2 separate regions of the Homo sapiens genome follow, and region 1 is linked to region 2. The links come from fine-mapping of genetic effects on gene expression. A gene starts in region 2. The other region holds a variant in brackets. All regions are shown on one strand. Distances are from middle to middle. Region 1 overlaps PTER (phosphotriesterase related). Region 2 holds the start of PTER (phosphotriesterase related).

Region 1 (8,339 bases), 75 kb after region 2:
ATTTAAAATAGTGCAGTGCATTCAGTCATTCTCATCTTTCACAATCTCAAAAACATGATTTCCTGATCAATGCCCTCAACATATGTTTTATTTCTTTTTTCTTTTTTTCTTTTTCTTTTTTTTTTTTTTTTGAGATGGAGACTTGCTCTGTCGCCCAGGCAGGAGCGCAGTGGCGCAATCTCACCTCACTGCAAGCTCTGCCTCCCAGGTTCACGCCATTCTCCTACCTCAGCCTCCCGAGTAGCTGGGACTACAGGCACCCGCCACCACGCCCGGCTAATTTTTTGTATTTTTAGTAGAGACGGGGTTTCACCGTGTTAGCCAGGATGGTCTTGATCTCCTGACCTCGTGATCCGCCCGCCTCGGCCTCCTAAAGTGCTGGGATTACATGTGTGAGCCACCGCGCCCGGCCTCAACACATGTTTTCTAAATCATCTTGGAAATGGGAACTTTGCACTCTGGATCGGCTTCCTTTTCCGAAGCCCCTTTGTGGTAGTGAGGTGCATCTTTTGCACACCTGTGTCTCGCATGAGGCTCCCAGACCTTCTAGAACAAGAGAAAGAAGATCCGTAAAGGGGCATCTGTGAAGGAGATAGAAGGGTCAGATGACCGATGGCTCCCCCAGCATTCCTTCTTAGCTCCTTTTAGCCATTTGTTTACCCTTTACTGTGCTAAATATAGCTATTCTGGATGTATGGAAATAATAAAAATTATTATAATATAAATCTGTGTATATATATATAAAATACCTGTGTGCTATTCCATACGTACGTGTATGTGTGTGTGCTTAATCTTCCTTAAATTAAACCATGCATTCTCGCTTGACCCAAGGACAGCCCATGTTAAGCACTGAATGCCCTTTTGGGTTGCGTGTGCTCCAGTACCCACTGTCTTGCACACTTGATTTTCATCATGCATGAAAGGACCACAGGGTCCTTTTCTGAGCCATCGTAGTCTTAAACCTTGAAGTGCATGAACACAGAAGCACGCTTCTGCCTACCTCTGGTGTTCAGCACCAGAAATTCTGTGTCTAACACCTGTTTTCAATCTTCTGCTCCATTTCTCAAATCTTATTATATCTCTGCCTTTTCACACTTTGTAGTCTCTCTCTAATATTTGTTTGCAAACACTAACTCATTTGTATTTCTATAATTACCGTGATTTTTTGTCTTCTCGTCTGTAGTGGCTCCCCCTTTTCTGGCAGCATCTCTGTAACTCCTGTTCTTCCATATAATGGCACAACAGGAGAGATGATCTTTTAGTGTAAGCAGGACGGGGCAGGTTTTCTTCATAGTCAGGATATGATTGTGTGTCCAGAGCCATAACGTTATCTTTCTCATAAGTAGTCTCCAGATTCTTGACTTAATGGGTTCTAAGGATTCCCGGTTTTAAGTATGAGTATCTTGTCCTCTATACTCTTTCATTCTACTTCATGATTTGATAACATTGTGTTTCAAGGTCTGACAAAGGACATCTTAAAGGAATTTGTTTATCCACATGATCTGCCTTTATAGTGTGAGAAATTATATTTATCAGATAAGAAACATAGGCAAAAATTTTGGAAAATGCCCAGAAAATATCAGGGAGAAAGTGTTTCCTAAAACCTCCTATACCGTGATACTTCTTTGCAGTTGTGGATCAAGGTTTGTCACCCTAAGCTTCAGTATTGTGTGTGCATTCTGTCAAATCTTTGTCTTTTTATGTGATAATATAACTTATCTTAGATAATTCCCCTAAACTGAGTGTGTTCCAAAAGTAACTGCAGATCAGAACTTCAGGATAGTATACAAATTTCAATGAGGCAAAAAATCATAGTGGCACAAAAGTCATTACATGCACTTATAGGACAGGCATGGTTCTTCTCTGCTAGTGCTTGCATTCCTTTGACCTGCAGATACAAAGTCTATTCTTCCATTATAATTTATTTTAAAATATGTGTTCTCAGAGGGCAGGGCTTTGTGCTTGAGTTTTTTTTGTGTGTGTAGTACCCCACGTTTTGCTCACTGTAGTAGTTATTAAATATGACTCATGTACTAGGACACCAAGAAATGCTTTTGAAACAAAAAAGATACCTTTCAAATAATCAGCCTCTGGAGGAAGGCACTGTCCGTCCGTCTAGATCCACTTTAGAATCTAGACGCCAAAAAAACTATTCAGAGAATCCCATAGAAGAGCCATTGTCTGTGAGTGGCATCTTCTACCATCAAAGACCCATGGAAGTCACGACAGACACTGCCCAGAGTCCAGACACGTACAGATGGTGGCTGTCAGGAGGTGACTCACACTACAGATTCCAGCATTTAACAAAGCAAAGAGGATTTCATTTTTAGAGAATAGTCAGGAAGCTGTTCTTTAGTCCACTGACTATAAATTTAAAGGAACAGCTTATTATTTTAGCAATCTTGCTGACATGGAAAGAAGACAGAATATATTTGTATTGGTCAGTTTAATCCAATGCTCAGAGGCTACAACTAAATCAAAATTGCCATAGACTTCAAAGGGGCAAATGGTTAAAATGCTGACCAACCTTTTTTCAGTGGCTTTGTAGCTTATCAAATGCCCCTCACTTGCAGACCAACTGATTTTGCTCTCAGAATATTTTACTTGTAGTGAGATTCCTTTTGTTTCCCTATTTTAATCGCAAACAGTCCTTGATATTTTTTGGCCAGATAAAAGGAGAGAGCAAGAATGAGATCTGAAAAATGGGCCCACAGGGAGAGGCATTTGAGAGAGGATTGCTGAATACAAATCCAGAACAAAGTTATTTAGTGAAATGCCAAAATGGTCATTCATCCAAACTGGCACATCCTATTAGAAGCTATCTTTAATGCGGTATTGCCAGGCATGGTCATAAATGTCACAGGTTAGAAATTTCTGTATGCATGGAATAAGGATATGTTCCTGCTAGGATGCAGCAATATTTTTATCGTCACCACACAATATTTATTAAAGGTCTCTCAGTACACACGCCACAGTAGAAGTCAGTATCTTTACGACAAGCACAATAGGTTAATGAGTAAAAAGTTGAAAGCATCCTGAAAAGCGAAAATGAAAGACAAATGACATCTAATGAGTTAACATTTTTCACAGGGTGCGTCTCCTGGTGGAAGAGGGCTGTGAAGATCGAATTCTGGTAGCACATGACATACATACGAAAACCCGGCTGATGAAATATGGAGGTCACGGCTATTCTCATATACTCACCAATGTTGTTCCTAAAATGTTGCTGAGAGGCATAACTGAGAATGTGCTTGATAAGATTCTAATAGAGAACCCTAAGCAATGGCTAACTTTCAAATAGGATGGTTGCTTATGAATTCACACCTTGAGTATAAAACTTGCAGAGAACATTCAGCGATTTCCAGTCCACTGTGAGATATTAATCAGTTACCTAGGACTAATGACAGATCATTTCCTTCTGATGAGAACTAGGAGGGTTTGCCTTCTCTGAGACCAGCTATTACAACTGTGCCTCTAGGGAGTTACTCAGCCTAATTGAGCCCTATTATTTTAACTTAACAAAATAAATACAGAAGTACCTATTTCTAAACAATGATTTAAAGTCTATATCCCCTAAGCGGAGTTGTTGTTTTTCTCCCTAATCTATCAGCTGCACTACTTGAGAAAATTTAAAGTGTTTCTAGTTAAATTATTTCCTTCTTGAGCGATCTAATGTTTCTTGTAATATTGATGATCCTACTAATTATCCTGCTGTTCTTTAATTAATGCTTAATGAATAATATGGCACTGTAAAATAGCTTCTGCAACAAGGGAAGTTAAATTTTGAGACTTTTTTCCCCAAAGGATACTGACTGTAATACAATTACCAATTCACAATGATAAAAATATTTTGAAAGGTTAATTTTATACTGTCCACCTATCTATATATTCTTCTACTGAAATGATTTTGATATCTTTGGCTTTCCGGTATCTATTTTTGCCATACATTTTGCTGTTTTGCAAAGTTTGTATAAGAACACATAACACTACTGAATTATAAAAATTCAATCATAAAAGTCAAAATATATTACATAATATAGTTTAATGAATCATTACATTTATAATAACAAAGGCCACAATTTAATTAATTGGTAAGATATAATGCAAAAAAAAAAAGAGAAATGTTTGCCTTATGTATATTCCCTTTATTTCCTTTACCTTTTGTTTTTCCTTGGACCTAAACAGAGAAAATAATGCTTATGTATCTGAAGAAAAGGTCAGATCTATTGGAAATGACAGCCCGATACTTGAGCCTCCTCTTTAAAAGGTATCCAGCCCTGATATTTTGTGTAAATAAAA[T/C]GTTTTTAAAACCTGTTAGTTAAAACACTTAGGTGATGGGCACTGCTGCTTATAAATTCATCTTTTGGTTGAATCCTCACTATGCTATTTGGTACCTAAAAATATTCTCCAAACCCTTGCTGCCAGTTCCTCTTTGATAAATATATAGTTAATTCGAAATAAAATCCATTGCAATTCATTTATGAGTTATCTTACATATCACAAAGACCAATTAGAATTAGTCATTATTCTTGATGAAGAGTCTGTTTTTAATCATAAAAATCATGACAGTTACTCAGACCCAGGCATTTCAACAGAGCTAACACCACCTTCAGATAGGCACACCATGCATAACTCTTGGGAAGTTGAGCTTTGCTAAATAAAAGATATTTCTGCTGATCAAAGATGATCAAGCTTTCTGTGTATTGGAACAGAAAGTAACAAAGAGGAATGAGCCAGGAGAACAAACTAATTCCTTTAAATAAATAAAAAAAAAAAATGCAAATGTCCTTCACCAGTAAAGCAAGCAAATTTTTAAAATCTCTGTTTTTGAAATCTACTCGTCAAAGAGTTTTCAGAGGCAATGAAAGGGGAACAGATTTTTCATTGTAATAGTGGAAGTTGTGTGATAGTTAGGAGATATCAACATGCATTTTTAATCTTTTCCTTAGATGAAAGAGATGGCTTTTGGCAGTGTGTTCTAACCAGAAAGAAAGGATTTGTATTACTCTCCAAATCTACTGTACTGTCAGCTTCACTCCACCTGAGAAAAAAGAAAAAAAAATTGATAGCTCAAATGCATGTAATTCATAAACACTGCAAAGGAGAGCCACTTGGTGTCTGCAGTCCTCATATTAACAGTCTGTCACAGAATGCAGTTAAAGTATTGATTGGCATATGGTAATAGAGCAACCATAGCCTTAACTTACAGACCTGTGAAATAAAGGGCATTTTGACCTAATACAATTAATTTTCTGGATAACTCTTAAAGAGAAGTCATTTTAACTGTTTTTGCTACTCCATATATTGTCATTCAAAATATATTTTAACCCAAAATAAGTTAAATAATTTGTGCATGTTTGTGTGTGTATATATGCATACACTTTTTTATATTAAAATTTTGAGGCTATACAGCCACTGTGCCCTGTGGAATAAAGCCATATATATAAATGTTTTATATGTATATGTTTTATACATAAATAAAACATTTCATCTAATATATATATGTGTGTGTGAGTATATGTGTGCATGTTTAGCAGATATTTGTATAAAATATAAACACTCTGTTGTCATATAGGCTATATGCGAAATTGTTAATTTTAAAATAACCTCAGGCCACAGACTTGTAGTAATCATTTGAAGGCCTCACCTAGTGTCCCCTTGGTGACGTATGCAGCAGCTCAAATTAAACCTTTGTGCATTGGGTTATGAATAATCTTTTCTTCCAAAGATGGCAAAAGCCTCGGTTTGATTTGATACTAAAGAATAAATTTCTCTGACTTTCCCAGTGAATCTAAATGTATTCAGTTGACAAAATGGACACATAAGGGCTTTTTCTAAATACCGTACATAATTACACATTTTCACACTTAGAGGGTAATCCTATGATACACTGTCAATCTCTATTTTTAAAGACTATCACCAGAAAAGAGAGAAAAGAAAATTCATATAAGAAAAAGAAAATGTGAAAAAGATCATAGGCTTGGGAATTCCCTCAAATCCAGAAAATTCCAGGTTAAGGCTTGAAGTTGAATCATTCCCAGGTCTAGCTCTAAGGTTAACAAGAGTACAAGGCAAACAATTTCTTTGGGGACAAGCAGCATTATTTCAATTAGACCTTCTCCTGCAGGGCAAAAATCATTCTTCCCCACACTATGAATGGACTCCAAGTATCATAATAAGCAGGTAAACTCACAAGAACCAAAGCTGACATATGGATAAAAGCAGCAAGATCACAGTACACCAAAGTATCATATATATAGAAGAAATAATTCAATGTCTTAGATTTGTCTATAAAAATTTGTGATCTATATAGGACTTCATTCACATGGACACTAACGATAAGGAGTATTTGCTTTGGCGGTAGTGGATCACACATCTGCTTATCTTGCTTTGATATTTTTTACATAATGTTTCTGAGTGATACAGATGTGAGTCAGGTAGCATTTGATTTCCCCACATATACACAACTGAGGTGCCCTGCCATTGGCATCCCCTGGGATCCTTGATTCACTGACGTTAGCCATACGAATCCAGTGTTCAAACTCAGAATAATAAGCTTAGTTTCTGCATTATCAGTCAGCATAAATAATAAATCCAGAAAACGTGCTGTATTTGTTGTTGTTTCCTCCATGGGCTTTCCCGCCATCTAATTTGATATAGACTTCATCTCCCGGCTCCAAATGAAGAACCACACTGTTACTGGCATAGTCGTAATTCTGATCAGCATCTTGGGCAATTGCACTAGCACGCACCTATGTGAAACAGACAAGAATTAGGATGCGTAAATGAGAATTCTCAAGTTTTCTTTTTTGCCATTCATGTAGCATCACAAGCTGACTTGCTGCCATAGTACAGAATTTAGCATAGCAAAGTCCATGTTGACCTCAGAGCTTTATGAGGATAGTGCTGTGGCAGTTTCCGCTACGTTAGTGAGAAGGAGGACAGAAAGGGACAAAATAGTGCTTCAGTGGGGACCATTCTGGCAGTCTTATCTAACTACACATTCTAAACTATGCATACAATTTATTATCTTCCTGTATCACTCGTTTTTCTAACTCCTTCGATCCCTATGCCCAATCACATTTTGAAATGAAACTAATAGTATTTTTTGCATTTTAATTTAAGCCAGATAGCAATATTCTAATCAGCTGTTTATGAGTACAGAAGTTCAAGTCTAAGTTCAGCTGTTCACCACAATTATTAGAAAATTGAGGTATGTAATAGCTAAAAATACCCAGGAAAATACCAACTCCTCTACTACTTACAAAGAAAAAAAAAAAAAAGAAAAAGTCTTTTGATTTAGGGCTTTCCAAATCTAATTCATGTAAAGCCCCCTTTACCAGGCTGCTTCAGAAGCTTAGCTCATTTATACATCTTTGATTATATCACCTGAGTTTTCAGAGTTCTTTTTTCCATCGTGTCTTTTTATTACTTAACTATGACATGTGCATTTAAATCAAGAATTTAACCTCAACATATCTAAAAGTTAAAGAAAGGACTAAATTTTCATGCTCTGAGGCCTCTCAAGTTTCAAGAATTTTTGAATGATTTCGTTGAATATCCACTTACACTTAGGAGATTCTAAATATGTGGCTTGATTTGAGGGCAGAGGCTGCTTATAATCTGCCCATGGTAAGCCTGTGATCTCATTAGTGAGTTGATAGACATTTACAAACAGTCAAATTGCCTATCATCTCATGCATTGTGGACATTCTGTCAGATCCTTAGCTCAAATTAGGCTTCATATTCATTTAGATATATTGTGATTCTGCCTTGGAAAATCTTTCAACAGGCAGACTTAGATTTGATTTATTTCAGTAAAACATCTTCTACTTTGTGGCTTGTTTCATTTCTATTCCACTATAATGATATTTCCCTGAATAACATAGCAAGTGATTTAGTGGTTTTGTAAACCTGCACTATGTAATAATGCATGATTTGGGGTACAATATGCTGGATTTTATCACTTGGCAAAATGAGAGAAATGAGACAGAAGTCAAGAATTTCCATGCATTTCTTTCAAAATTTAAATGATGAGTTTTCCAATTAAATTTTCTTGTGATATAGTCTCACGTTAATGCTGAAATGTTAAAAAAAGAAGACTCTTTAACACTGCTGAACTTGTAAAGTCATTTGAGTAGTATCTTTAAAGTGTCTTTCTGGGTATCACATAGCAAAAGGAGAAAATGGCTTAAAGGATTTAGAATTGCTTAACGCTGTACTAACAGGCACTAATATAATGAAAGCAATATACCATGTAATTATGCTTGGAAGCACTGACTCCAATATATATGCCAATTTAGTAAAGTGGTCCGTTTTGACCATTAAATAATGACGCA
Region 2 (8,339 bases):
AGTTTTGTGTGTGTGGGTGTGTGTGTGTATGTTTTTTAGTAGAGACAGGGTTTCACCATCTTGGCCAGGCTGATCTGGAACTCCTGACCTTGTGATGCACCCGTCTCGGCCTCCCAAAATGCTGGGATTACAGGCATGAGCCACTGCACCTGGCCTGTTTTTTTTGTTTGTTTGTTTTTTTAGGGAAGATAGGTTTTCACCATGTTGGCCAGGCTGGTCTCAAACTCCTGGCCTCAAGGGATCTGCTACCCTGGCCTCCCAAATTGTTGGGATTACAGACGTGAGCCACAACACCTGGCCTCTGCCTTTCTTTGAACACACCTGTAGGCAATAGTTTGAGAAAGTTCCTGAAATAAATCTCCTGCATATTAATTTGAAATTTCTTTGTAGCTGCTTCTTTCAAAAAAGAAATAAAATCTCTTTACTAGTATCTTTTTAAGGAGTAAAGCCACAGAAATAAGAGCGTGCATTTGAAATCCATCACAAATCTTGCTCAGTGGATTTACTGTGGGCAGTGGAGAATTTAGTAACTTCCATAAAGAAAAACTAAAGTTTACTTTTCAATTTTTTTTTTTTTTGAGACAGGGTCTCTCTCTGTCACTAGGTTGAAGTGCACTGGCATGATCTCAGCTCACTGCAATCTCCACCTCCCAGGTTCAAGCAATTCTCATGCCTCAGCCTCCTGAGTGGCTGGGACTACGGGCATGCACCACCACACCCGGCTAATTTTTGTATTTTTAGTAGAGATGGGGTTTTACCATGTTGGCCAGGCTGGTCTCCAATTCCTGGCCTCAAGTGATCTGCCCACCTTGGCCTCCCAAAGTGGTGGGACTACAGGCGTGAGCCACTGCGCCTGGCCTGAAGTCATTTTTTAACAAGGACCTCATGTATCATTTAACATCTAGCAGCATAGACTACTAAAATACGTAACATTATAAATAATGGACTTTCGAGCCTCTCCTTACCACCCACTGTCGGGTACACATTTATATGGCTCCATGCTTGTAGCACACACAAAGTGGGAGCCAGCACTGAAATCACTCCAGAAGCCTCCCTGGATCCATCTCCTCATTACAGAATCTCAGTGTGAGCCCGTCATTGCTACTAATATCCAACTGTCCCAGCACTCATGCCTCTGCAGTTCTTAACCCCTACAGTTATTCTTGTCTTTCCTACTCTTGGGCCCTATTTTTATCCCTTTTCTGTTTCTAGGATTTACCCAGCCACCCTCCTTAAGAACCAATTTTTTCCTCAGTATCTTCTCCCTGACTGTCCCTTACCAACCAACCCCTTTTCTAAATGACTTCTTGTACTTTTACCCTTAAAAAACAAAAAACAGAGAACGAGACCTGTATATCCTTTTCTCCTCCTTTTTTTCTGATTTAAATGAATTAATTTATTTCTATTAATCTCCTATCAAAGCACCCCATTCTCTCCTGGTGCGGTGGCTCACGCCTGTAATCCCAGCACTTTGGGAGGTCAAGGCAGGTGGATCAGTTGAGGTCAGGAGTTCGAGACCAACCTGGCCAGCATGGCAAAACCTCATGTCTACTAAAATTACACAAAATTAGCTGAGCATGGTGGGGCGTGCCTGTAATCCCAGCTACTCAGGAGGCTGAGGCAGGAGAATCCCTTGAAACCAGGAGGTGGAGGCTGCAGTGAGGTGAGATTGCACCACTGCACTCCAGCCTGGGCAACAGAGCAAGACTCTGTCTCAAAAACAAACAAACAAACAAACCAAAAAAATTCCCCATTCTTTACTAAGAAGGCAAGTGTAGTGACTGATATCAACTAATCTGGGTCCCTAGTCCTATCCTTGAACAAGGTGCTTGCCTAAGTTTGTTTTCTTGTCTGTAATTGGAGGGAAATAGCTCCTGCCACATGCAGGTTGCTCAAAATCTTAAACAAAATAACATACACCCATTACAAAACCTGGTAGAGTTGGCCCCGATAAACATCATCTATTAATATTATTATTAAAACTCTACTTTCCTTTGAAATGACATCTGTAGCTTCTGCCCATCTGCATACCTATTCTCTTTTTTCTCAGAATTCAGGATAAAATTAATTGACTAGGCCTTGTGCTGTGGCTTATGCATGTAGTCCTAACACTTTGGGAGGCTGAGGTGGGAGGATCCTTTGAGCTTAGGAGTTTGAGACCAGGCTGGGCATCATAGCGAGACCTCCATCTCTACAAAAATTACAAATATTAGCTGAGTGTGGTGGTGCACACCTGTAGTCCCAGCTGCTCAGGAGGCTGAGGCAGGAGGATCCCTTGAGCCCAGGAGTTCAAGGCTGCAGTGAGCTATGACTGCACCACTGAAATCCATCCTGGGCAACAGAGCCATTTCAAAATAATAATAATAATAATTGATGACAGTGTAATATGGTTGGGGTTCAGAAAATGATACCCCAAAATGAAGGCCTTAGAAGCAGCTCTCTCTAACCTCATGTCCTCCTGCCTCTGGCCCCTCATTCTAGAAACTGGAATCCCTCTTCCCCAAGGTGATTCACAGAAGCCAGAACCCCTCATCCCCAAAGCCAAGCATAAAACCTAAAAGTTTGACTCTGCGTGTCCCCTGCCTTTCTGTGTCAAAACTGGCGGTAAAGAAATTCTCTGCCCTGCTTTGTTTGACTGTAGGTCATAAGACCCCCATTCCAGAAAGGATCCTGCTCTATACCCAGAAGGAAGGAACACTGCACAGAAAAGCCAAAAAGAATCTAAACAGACAGGGCTTGCTCACTTAGTCTATTGGCATTAGCTCAGACCCTTTTTATGCCATCGTAGTATCTCTTAGGTTGGTGCAGAAGTAATTGCGGTTTTTGCCATTAAAAACCGCAATTACTTTTGCACCAGCTGAATACATGGCGGTCCATACTTTATTGAACCTAAGCGAAAAAATGGACCGTTTCCCCTGCATCTTTGGGTTTTCATTCTGAAGGCTCCCGGATCACATAAAGTTACGATCTAGTATATTTGTATGCCTTTTCTACTGTGAAACTGTCTTTTGTCAGTTGATTTTCAGCAAACTTTCAGAGGACGAAGGAGAGGTTTGCCCTTGGCCCCCTACAATACCTAAAGGTATGACTCTTTACTGTGGCAGCTGCTCCAAGCATCATGTTTTGCCAACAGACTCACACATACTAAGTTTATTTCAGTCACAGCAAGTACCAGGGCCAGTTCAAGTGCTCTAGCACGGCACTCTAATTCTAAAGAGAAGGAAACGCGGCACCGGGGCAGGAAACAGTGACAAGTGGGAACACAAAAACCAAAGTTCTCCGTATGCAGCATGAGGATCCAGAACCCACTGTGACATCAAATTGCCAGAGCACCACCTCCGATTTATTCTTGGGGAAAACCAAAAGAGCTACGGAATGCTCCCTTGTTCCAGACTGTTCTATGGAGAACTGGGATCTGGGGAAAATGCAACAGTTTCTTTCCGTTTGGGGATCTAGCCCCGAATTTTTTTCATTCAGCCAAACTACCGACAGTCAGACAGCGCCTGCAGGAGGGTGTGGCCAGGCAAAAACGCGGGGAACGGCCCCGGACCAGGGTGGGGCGTGGCAAGGGTTTGAAGGGCGTGTCCTACGAAGAGGTAGGGCTTGGCAAGGACCCACGGGGCGTGTCCTAGGACTCGGTGAGGGCGTGACCTCGGGCCAGGGGCGGGGAGAGAACCAGAGGGCGAAGTGGGAGGGCACAGGGGAGACTAAAAAGGCCAGGGAAGTTGGCCTGCCGGAAGTTCCCAGGGAGAAGGCAGCGCGTTGTACCCGAGGTAAGGCTTCTTGGAGTCAGAGCAGGAGCCGGAACTGTGGGCCCAGTAGGAAGAGTGGGGCCCGACGGCGGAGGCCGCGCGGCCAGGGTTCGCTGCAGAGCTCCACGCGAGGGTCCTGCCGGAAGGAAGGATTTTCTAGCCGCTGCGCTTGGGCCCTGCCGCCTCTCCTTAAGTGCTTGAGGGACGTTGCAAAGAGCGCCAGTCCCGTGTGGCGCCAGCTCCCTGTGGCTCGACAGCAATGCCCGGGGGCGTCATCGGGTAGCTGTGCTAAGCCTCCTTTAATAAGCTTTTTTTTTTTTTTTTTTTTAGATTCAGGGTCTGGCTCTGCTTCCCAGGCTAGAGTGCATTTGGCGCGATCACAGCTCACTGCAGCCTCGACCTCCTGAGCTCAAGCGAACTTCCTGCCTCAGCCTCCTGAGCTTCCTGAGTAGCTGCGACTACAGGCACGTGCCACCATGTCCGGTTATTTTTGTATTTTTTGTAGAGAGTGTCTCGCCATGTTGCCCAGGCTGGTTTCGAACTCCTGGGCTCAATCAGTCTGCTGCCTCGGCCTCCCAAAGTGCTGGCATTACAGGTCTATATTTTTTGACAGTTTATAAAAGCCAATTACCAGCGGTCATATGTCTGAGTCCTGTGCACTCTTGCTTAATCCACTCTGCAGCCCTGTGAAGGATTCTAGTGATAACGACAAAGCTAAGGTACAGAAAAATTAGGCCACACTGCTGGAAAGTTTAGAGATGGAAACAAAGTTTAGAGGTGGAGTCTTTCTGACTCCACAGCCAGTGTGCTGTTACTCTCTTAGACTACCTCATTCTTTGTACATCCCAAGTCAACAGGAACTAAAGGTATACCCTTACATAGGCAGTAAGAGGGGTTGCTGATTTAAAGAACTTTGGACCCAGAAAGAGTAGAGCCCTATTCTAGTTCTGGTTCCAGCTCAGTGACTTTCTACAAGTTGGTTTTCTTTTGCTTTTTTTAAAGACAGAGTCTCGCCCTTGCCCAGGCTGGAGTGCAGTGGTGCGATCTCGGCTCACTGCAACCTCCGCCTCCCGGGATCAAGCGATTCTCTTGCCTCAGCCTTCTGAGTGGCTGGGACTACAGGCGCGCTCCACCACACACAGCTAATTTTTGTATTTTTAGTAGAGACGGGGTTTCACCATACTGGCCAGGCTGATCTCGAACTCCTGACCTTGTGATTCACCCACCTCGGCCTCCTAAAGTGCTGGGATTACAGGCGTAAGCCACCGCGCCCGGCCTCTTGCTTTTTAAGACTAGGTCTCATTATTTCACCAAAGCTGGAGTGCAGTGGTGCTATCACAGCTCACTGCAACCTTCACTTCCCCCGTTCAAGTGATCCTCCCAGCTCAGTCTCCCACAGGTGCACACCACCACGCCCGGCTAGTTTTTATTTTCTGTTTTTTGTTTTTTTTTTTGTATTTTTGGTAGAGACGGGGTTTTGCCATTTTGTCCAGGTTGGTGTCAAACTCCTGGGCTCAAATGATCTGGCTGCCTCGGCCTCCCAAAGTGCTAGGATTACAGGCGTGAGCCACTGCGCCTGGCCTGCCTGTTTTCTAGACACATTAAGGTGAGTGGTCTCAGGCCAGGCGCGGTGGCTCACACCTGTAATCCCGGCACTTTGGGAGGCTGAGGCAGGTGGATCACTTGAGGCCAGGAGTTCGAGACCAGCCTGGCCAACATGTGAAACCTCTTTTCTTCAAAAAATTAGCTGGGCATGGTGGTGGGCATGCCTGTAATCCCAGCTACTGGAGAGGCTGAGGCACGAGAATTGCTTGAACCTGGGAGGCAGAGGCGGCTGTGAGCTGAGATCACACCACTGCACTCCAGCCTGGGTGTCAGAGCAAGACTCTGTCTCAAAAAAAAAAAAAAAAAAGGTAAGTGGTCTCTAGGTCGCTAGTGGATGTAATAATCTATGGATTTATGAGGATAAGATCCTGATTTTACCATTTAATGATATTTTGGGCCAGTTTTTTTCCTTTTTAATTGGGCAGCCCTCAAACCAGAATAGATTGAGAGGGTCTTCCAGTTTTGGGTCATATTTGCTGCTGAAATTACAAGGTAGTCAGGAAGGGTCTGTTTATTCAATCAAAGATCAATAAATGTGTATTTTGGAGGTCAGTAGCGGAGTATCCAGCCAGAAGGTGGCTAGTGAGACAGGAGGAAAATCAGGACAGTGGCTTTTCTGGAGGGACTTAGGGAAAGATCAGTTTCACTGGGCAAATTTCCCCTTCCCTGTGAAGGACAGAAAATACCTTCAATATGGCTAAAGTGAGAAGCATTTCTGAAAAAAAATGCAATTTAATATCCTTTGAAGTGTCAGTAAATTTTGAGCCAAATAGAAGCAGAGAGTAAGAGAACACAAAAATAGATCATTTAGAATCTGGAGAAGTACATGACCGTGTACTCAGTGCCAGGACTTGGCCATAGGATCCCTGTGACTATTTTAAGTTGAGTAAGCAGCCCTGATGCAAGAATTTTAGAGATTGTCTCAGTTTTAAGCTTAAAGACAAAATGATGAACTGTATAGCATGAGAGGAGCTTGGTAAATGTCCACCTTTGCTTCCATGTGCAAAGTGTTCATACAGGACATACATACATACAGGACCCATTCATACAGGAGGAATGTTTATCCTTAAATATCTTCTTTTTAAAATATTTATTAGTTTATTTATTTTTGTAGAGATGGGGGGTCTTGTTTTGTTGCCCAGGCTGGTCTTAAACTCCTGGGCTCAAGTGATCTTCCCACCTCGGCCTCCCAAACTGTTGAGATTACAGGCGTGAGCCACGGCAGCCAGCCAACTTCAAATCTATTAAATGCCCTAGTAAGCCATATAGTAATAATATTGAGAATTTCTGATCAAGCTCGAGTCTGCTCAGTATCCCTATGAACTTGACTGAGGTAGTTGTTGAATATATTTTCATACATCAAATGTGGCTTTGTTCTGTTTTCTTTAGCTGTTGTTTCTAGTGTATTTTCAGTGGTCCAGGTTTTCCTAACAAGATTTTTTTTTTTTTTTTGTGGCAGGGTCTCACTCTATTGCCCAGACTGGAGTGCAGTGGCCCTATCTTGACTCACTGCAACCTCTGCCTCCCAGGTTTAAGTGATTCTCCTGCATCAGCCTCCCAACTAGCTGGAAATATAGGCATGCACCACCACGCCCAGCTAATTTTTTTGTATTTTTGGTAGAGACGGGGTTTCATCATGTTGATCAGGCTGCTCTTGAACTCCTGACCTCAGGTGATCCACCTGCCTCAGCCTCCCGGCATGAGCCACCACGCCCGGCCCTTAATAACACTTTTATAACAAAAGGCTTCTCATTCATAGACATCATCTCTTAAAAAAAAGAAAAAGAAAAAAGAATAAGAAAAATAAAATATCTGGTTCCATTTGGCATAAACTGGCTCTGTGGTTGTACCTATTTTGTCAAAACAATAACCACCTGAGTACAAATACCTCTGTGCCTGCTCAGCGTGAGAGCTGTGAATGTTAGCCATTTCCCTGTCTCCTTCCAGGCAGGTATGTCCACGTGACTTGTTTGGCTAACGAAACGCAAGTGGAGTGACCTGTGTCACTTCCAGGTAAAACTGTGTTAAAAGCCAGTGAAAGATTTGTCACAATCACTTTCCCTCTGCCGCAGTGACCATCCAGATAGAGGCAGTGGTCTCAGCCTGGGTCATAGAGGACAGTGAGCGGAGCCCCCTGCCTTCCTGTGTTAGACGTATTCGATGAGCTAGAAATAAACTTTTGTTGTGGTCAGACCCTGAGATTCGGGGATTTGAGTGTTACTGTGGCCTAGCCTGGTCAAGCCTGCGTAATGAATATTATCAGATAAGCTGCATGTATGCGGGGATTTCTGGCTCTGGTTTACCAGATACCTTGGGAGCTGTGGGGAGGGCCCTGAAAGAGGCTTGTCCTATGAATCATGCTCCTTTTACTGTGTGGGAGATGGCAGGTGTGCTGTTCCCATCATGCTCCAGTCTGCTTTGTGATTTTAATCAAGAGTGGCAAAAATGGCGTTTAGATGTTTAATTGCATTCTGTAAGGGCAGACCATGTTAAAGTGTAAAATAGGTAAAGGCTGTATGCCTGGAAGGGATAAGAATCAAGGCTTTCATTTTTACTTTGAAAAACACAATTTATATATTTTTAACAATTTTCAGTGCACTTCCAAGTTTTCCAATACAGAGGAATGTTCGTGGGTGAGTTGTGAAAAGATGATTCTTCCCAAATGCAGTTATCAGTGGATACATTTCAGAAATTATTTTGTCACTGAAGGACATTTGAAATGAATCATCCGTACTTACCATTGACTAATACGTTTTTTTTCAGGCAGCTTCAAAGAGTATTTTAAATATGATTTCCTGGCTATCTGATTTCGGATCTAAGAGTATCAGACTTAGGTTTTGCTGTTAATGTCCTAGGGGCAGTGTGTTCACTCTTTTATTCTGAGTTAAACAGAAGGCAAGCCGGGAGCATTGTGCTTTGGACAGAGCTGTGCTGCATTCTTAGGGGACACTGGCTATAAATCCAGTCTCCCTAGAGGTTAAC

Evidence for each region.
Region 1: its variant is fine-mapped to the expression of PTER in sun-exposed skin (GTEx, PIP 0.91).

Annotation. Positions count from the first base shown.
Region 1 is chr10:16,507,956-16,516,294 of GRCh38, forward strand. It overlaps PTER (phosphotriesterase related), which reads left to right. Exons shown (of 5, transcript NM_001261836.2): 5 at 3,091-5,790. The coding sequence ends at 3,301. C1QL3 (complement C1q like 3) reads right to left here. Exons shown (of 2, transcript NM_001010908.2): 2 at 5,779-6,752. The coding sequence ends at 6,573. Among named protein-coding and RNA genes, the nearest start is that of C1QL3, 9.8 kb to the right of the region's middle. The variant T/C (reference allele first, on the strand shown) is at 4,300.
Region 2 is chr10:16,433,275-16,441,613 of GRCh38, forward strand. It overlaps PTER (phosphotriesterase related), which reads left to right and starts at 3,736. Exons shown (of 5, transcript NM_001261836.2): 1 at 3,736-3,773. RefSeq lists a silencer at 3,611-3,660 and enhancers at 4,081-4,260, 4,281-4,330.